Linked DNA regions of Homo sapiens: region 2 is linked to region 1. The links come from fine-mapping of genetic effects on gene expression. A gene starts in region 1. The other region holds a variant in brackets. All regions are shown on one strand. Distances are between the middles of the regions.

Region 1 (2,903 bases):
TTTCAAGCGCTTGATTCCAGCTAAGACTCACTTTCTATCCTTACATCATCAGGGTAACCTTAAAGGTTTGTTTTAAAAAATGACCTGGGAGATAGCAGGGCTTCAGGGGTGAGCTGGGCGACCTGCACTCGCCCGCACCAGCGACACCTGGAAAAAAGGGAACGGGAGGCAGGAATCTGACCAAGGGGCTCCAGCAACCTGCAAATCCTTCACCTAAGACCCAGTTCCCGCGCGGATATACCTGGATTTCTGTTATAGCTTTAAGAACTGAGTAGGATTTGCAGAAAGTTCCACGCCATCTCCCACCCCACCCCCAGGCAGCCCTGAAGTATAGAAGTCCCGGGGGCGGGGAGGCGGGCGGTCACGAATCTCAAAAATTTCCGAAGAAAACAGGACCTGCGAATACAGGTCGCAGACACCGGGAACTAGGGGCTTTCAGAACCCGCCAGGCAGGCCGGGCACTCTGGCCGGCGTGCTAGGCGGTTGGAGTCAGGGAACGCAGAGTCCCAGCACGCTGTCCCTTGCCTTCCCGGAGCAGGCGGCAAACACAGCCTCCAGCCGCCCCGGGGCGCGCGGCAGGAATGAAACGGCGCCGCGGCAGAAAGGGGCGAGCACGGGATGTACGAAAGCAAAAAGTCTGCAACCTAGCGGCTGCTTTCCACACGCCCTGCCCAAGTTGTCCCTGTCGCCACCACCTCCAGGCTCGCGGGAGTCCGGCCCCACAACAGCCCCACGCCGCGCACTCCCAGCGCAAAAGCCTAACCCGGAGGCGGGGAAACGCCGCAGCCTTCGATTGGTCTCCACGGGTGGCGCCGCGAGCAGAGGCGGCAGCGGGTCGGTCCCCAGCTCTGGGCACAAAGAGCGCCTGCGGTTGGAAGGCAGTAGCCGCAGAGCAGAGAAAGGGCTCTCTAACTTTGCCCTCAGCGCGGCGGAGAACCTGCAGGCAGGTCCTCCCGGGCGCCGGTCACACACACGCAACTTTTAACAAAAGGAAGCTGCGGCCGCGCCTCGCACGGCAAGAGAAGGCGCTCGGTGCAAACCCCTGAGCCCCCCGCCTCCGCCCCCCGCGCAACGTCGGCACAAAAGCCACCCCAAACTCGCACGGAGCCTGCAGCCTCGCTCACGCCTAACCCCCTCTTGCTGTCCCCATTCCCGAAGAACCCCGGATTCGCGTCCCCCACCACCAGCAGCTGGGGTCTCCTCGCGCAGGTGAGCGAGGCAGGGCGCCGGAGAGTCCGAGGGCCACCTGGAGTCTCCCCGGAGGCTGGAACGCACGGGCACTGAGGGCCCGCAGTCCTCTCTCCGGATGCACCCTGGCGGGTACCACCCTCCCAGGCACAGGCTTCGCCGAGTAGTCGCACGGTCGGGGTGCCAGCCGCGGTGTCCCACCTGTCTGGACGCGAAGCAGTAGGAGCAGAACGCAGAGAAAATCCCAGGCGCCGCGAGCGCCTCTCATCGCGGTAGCTGCGATGGGATCCGAGCTCTGGTCCACGTTCCAGCTCTCGCCCAAGTGCAGCGAGCGCGGCAAAGCCGAGCCCCCAGAGCCGCGAGCGGCGAGCAGCAGCCCCTCCTCCCAGCGCCCTCCCTCTGCGCGCCGGCCACGCCCCTCCTCGCCTCCCCTCCCTCGCGCCCGCCCGGGTCTCGCTTCTTCCCGGCGGCGTCTGGCCCCTGCTCTTTCGACGTGTTAATGCCGGGGGGCCGTGCCCGCCGGGAGGAGGAGGGCGCGCGCGCCCTCTCTCCCCGCTCTTGACTCCGGAGCCCCTTTCTCTCTCCACCTTTCCACCCCTGGGATGTGGACGGCCAGGCTGAGGCCGTTCCCGGACCAAGGAGGTGCTGCCCGCTCGCTTTGTGAAGCTGGGCACCACGCACACGTTAGGGCACGGGCCCGCCACCTGCCAGGTGCTCCCCAGACAATAAAGGTCGACTGCCCGCCCCTCGAGCACGTTCGGGCGGGAGGAGGCTGGACGCCGCTGCTCGTGGAGGTGGCATGGGGATGGGGAGGGGAGCGTTAGGAAATTGAGCCCCGACATTCCCCTCCAGGCCTGTTAGGAGCTCCTGGCACCGCGGTAAAGGCTGAGCCCGGTTTCGCTAATTGTTTCTGCTCAATTTCTCCACCTGCTTCGTAACCTGTAGGAACACAGTGGGTTCCTATTGGTCGGCGTGGCCTCCGCCCAAGAAGCCCCTGCCGGGACTTGTGTGGAGACAGGGGCGATGGAGGGCGCGTGGCGAAGTTTGCTCTGGGAGCCCAGGTTTTCATACACGTTTTCCCCCCTCCCCCCAACGCTGCCAACCCCAGTAATGATTTCTCTGCCTCTGTAACAGACGACAGTTTTAGGGCTAGGGCTCTTAACTGCCCTTGCCGGTCCCAGGAGCAAAATAAAAGTACAATGATTCTCTTAAGCCCGATTTCACTGCCCAGAAAGTGCCTTACCCACAGTCTCATGGTGGATCCTTGAACGGAAAGCAACAACAGTATCTGTATAGGGGTTAATAGTTCTTCCCCACAGCGACTCGTCTTTTCATGCTCACGATAACAGCTTTGTGAGGAGGGTAGAGCAGGTATGTTTATTATTGTAGTGAGGGAAGACCCAGGGCTTGAACACTTATTGGAAGACCTACTCCAAGAAAGATGAGCTTTCCCTATGCATTCTGATAAACTAATAAGACATCCCTCCTGAGAGCTTAAGAATGGAAAAATAAATGGCAGATGCCCATCAGAAAAAGGGATAGAACAGATACACCTAGACTCTTCTCTGAAGTATCATCCAAAATTTACAGTTGCCCAGCTGCCCCACTTCATTTAATATTGAAAGCTCTCCTGTTGTTTAATAGTGTGAGGACCCAGGTTGATGTAAGAAAAATGATTTTTAAAGCTAATCACTTAAAAATTATCAGTGCTAGAG
Region 2 (2,903 bases), 160 kb after region 1:
GCGTGTCTGAAGGCATGTGGAGGTGAAAAGGAGAGTCAAATAATCATAGCAGACCAAAACGAACAGTAGTTATGGCTGCCTGGATCAAGGAAGAAAATACCAAGGATCAAAACCTCAATACTAAGGGAGGGACCTAGAGGTTAATGCGGTGCAGCCCTGTCACTTTGTTTCTGCAGACAGAGAACCTGAGCTTCTGTCACTGGCTCAGACAAATTGCCTGGGGAAAATTGTTCAACTCCTGGAGCCTTTGTTCCCTACTTTAAGAACTGACAGTTCAGTAGCTTGCCTACCTCTCTGGAATGATGTTAGAGTTAAAGGGCTGACAACCCACTGGGTGTAGTCCTCTCTACCTACGTTTCTAGTGTTCAGAGAAGTTACTGGGGCGATAGGAATTTTTTTGAACACCCATTGGTGCCTAAGGAACCCTTTGTCAGAAGCTAAGTATTCCATGCACCCAGCCTCTATAATGTTCATGAGTCACTTTAATAACACTTTATTTTCCTGCTTAAGTTTTAATTGCTCAGAAAATAGCAAAGAGGCACCGTGAAAGCCACAACCCAAATGACTTTGCAGGGCCTCCTGCTGTGCCCTCCAAGTCTGTTTTCAAGATTTATCTCCACTCAGAATTAACTAGAAGGAGGAGGAGGGGGAGGAAATGCTAAATAGCTGCATCATGTTAAAACAAATTAAGTTCAGTTTCCACAATGGCAAAATACACTGGGCGCATACTAACCAGGCAGTTTATTGCAGTGACTTTTCAGGGGTTGTTTTTGTTTTTGTCTGTAAAAGTATTTCCAGATCTAACATCCTCGCAGTCTTTTGTCAAGAAATCCACGTTTGGCTGAGACACATTGACTGGGCATATTCTACTTACTAATTCAGAAAGGCCAGCTATTCCTATGTGCCACGGAAAAGCCAAAGGGTGGTAATGAGAGTAGGAGGTAATTTGGGCAGGGGGTTGAAGTACATGTTCTCCCCAGAATACACTCTGGGGCACTGGGTTAGCATGCTGATGAGAGATAACATGAGACCCGATTAACAGCAATTGAGTAGACATTCTGGAATGCTACCACTCAGGCTCCTGTCAGACCAGGACCCTACATTCATTCCAAGTGAATGGGTGCCACCATGCTGGCTTTCCATTTCACAGTGGGAATCTGGGGAGGAAAAGCAGCAGCACATGAAGCATATCTATCTTGTAGACACAAGCCTGTAAGAAAAAAGTGACCCATCACCCTTTATTCCCAGGGGACTTGTATGCAACTGCACTGTAAAAGCCCTGCCCTTGCTGGAGACTGGCATTCCAGAGCTCTGTTTCATGCTGTGA[T/C]TGACATGTGGTGAATGCCAACATTTTAGAAGTCATGTGTCATTCATTCAATGACACACAACTCATCTACAGGACCAGAGCTTCTGCTCCCTACTCTAGTCTGTACCTGCAGTGTACCCAATCTCCCATTCGTGCTATCCTGGACATCATATTCTGGAGGGACATTTTTTTTTTTGCAGTCCATCCATCATTCATTCAAGAAATGTTTCTTGAATGTGCCTGTCAGGTGTTCAGCCCTGTTCTGAGCCCTAGGGACACAGTGGTAAATAAATTTAAAACAAATTTTTTTTTAAAACGAAACAAACAAACAAAAACCTTACCTGTCTTTGTGGCGTACATTCCAGTGGATATCTGTGGCTTTTGCCCCTCCAGCATCCCTTCCTATGGTGCCAGCACTTCACTGTTTTTTGGGGGAGCCATGCTCAAACCCTGTGATGCAAGGGAGGCTGATGGAATTCTTGGTGGTGGGGGCAGGGATGAACTCAAGGCCTGTACAATCAAGGTGCTGCAACCCCTTGCTCACAAGATTGGTTAATTGCTACAACTGTTGGGGAAAAGTTCCACTGTGTCAGCTGGGGGAGGGGGTCCTAGGCTGGTGAGACATTAAGTCTAGACTGTTGCTGGTCACTTGTGTCACCACGTGGGGAGAGGCTGCCTGAGAATGAAGCAGACATAGAGGAAAGCCGAGCTGAGAGATAGAGAAAGAGAGAGATGGGGAGAACTCCTGGCATGCTTTTCAGGCCCACAAACCAATAGACCCCATTTCCTATGCGACCAGTTTGAGTTGGGTTTCTAGTATTTGCAGCTGGAAAGATTTCTTGACAAATACAGGTGCTAGGTGAAGTTATAAAACAGGAGCTGGTTTCTGTGTCTTTCTCTCTTCCTCAGTACTGCATACCCTCTCCCAAGGAAACCCTGCACAACCATGTCAAGGCAAGCCCGGGACAGTCCACCAACCTCTTGCCTTCCTTTAACCTTTTGACTGGGAAGGTGCAAACAAATTTTCCTCTTTTTTCATGAAAAGATGACACAGCTCAGGGGAAGCTGTCAGGCTTTGGAGACAATGGAGCCAGCTTTGACCCTATCTCTGCAGCACACCAGCTGTGGCCTTGGGCAAGTCACATCACCCCAAGCTTCAGTTTCAGCATCCATCAAATGGGAATAGGGGCCCTGTTCTCACAGTGTCACATGTAGAAGGAGCAACACAAAACATGAGTCTCCTTTTTCTTCTGTCATTTCTCCCTGATTAAAATAGTTACCATGTTGGACAGTGTTGTGACAAATTGATCGGGCCACTGAGAATCCATGAGAGGGAAAAACTGGAGTTGGGGGTCCCTAAGCAAAAGTAGATGCTTAGCTAAAAATCTTTACGAAGGATTGACATTTGTTTCAGGCCCCTTCCAATGCTGGGCCTAGAAGTGTGTACCAGCTTATACTCCCCACCACCCTGAAAGTTAGTGCATGAAAGGTTCATGACAGGACGGGCACAGTGTCTCATGCCTATAATCCTAGCACTTTGGGAGGCCAAAGACAGGCAGATCACTTGAGGCTAGGAGTTCGAGACCAGCCTGGCCAA

Which allele goes with the higher level. Alleles are on the strand shown, and positions count from the first base shown. SD is a standard deviation of normalised expression in the study named.
For the expression in fibroblasts of the gene that starts at base 1,514 in region 1, T is the low allele of the variant in region 2 and C is the other (moderate effect, 0.50 SD a copy in GTEx).

The links.
Region 2: its variant is fine-mapped to the expression of KIT in fibroblasts (GTEx, PIP above 0.99).

The regions. Positions count from the first base shown.
Region 1 is chr4:54,656,568-54,659,470 of GRCh38, reverse strand. KIT (KIT proto-oncogene, receptor tyrosine kinase) reads right to left here and starts at 1,514. Exons shown (of 21, transcript NM_000222.3): 1 at 1,390-1,514. The coding sequence starts at 1,456. RefSeq lists a silencer at 1,935-2,229.
Region 2 is chr4:54,497,167-54,500,069 of GRCh38, reverse strand. No RefSeq gene overlaps it. Among named protein-coding and RNA genes, the nearest start is that of LINC02260, 110 kb to the left of the region's middle. The variant T/C (reference allele first, on the strand shown) is at 1,328.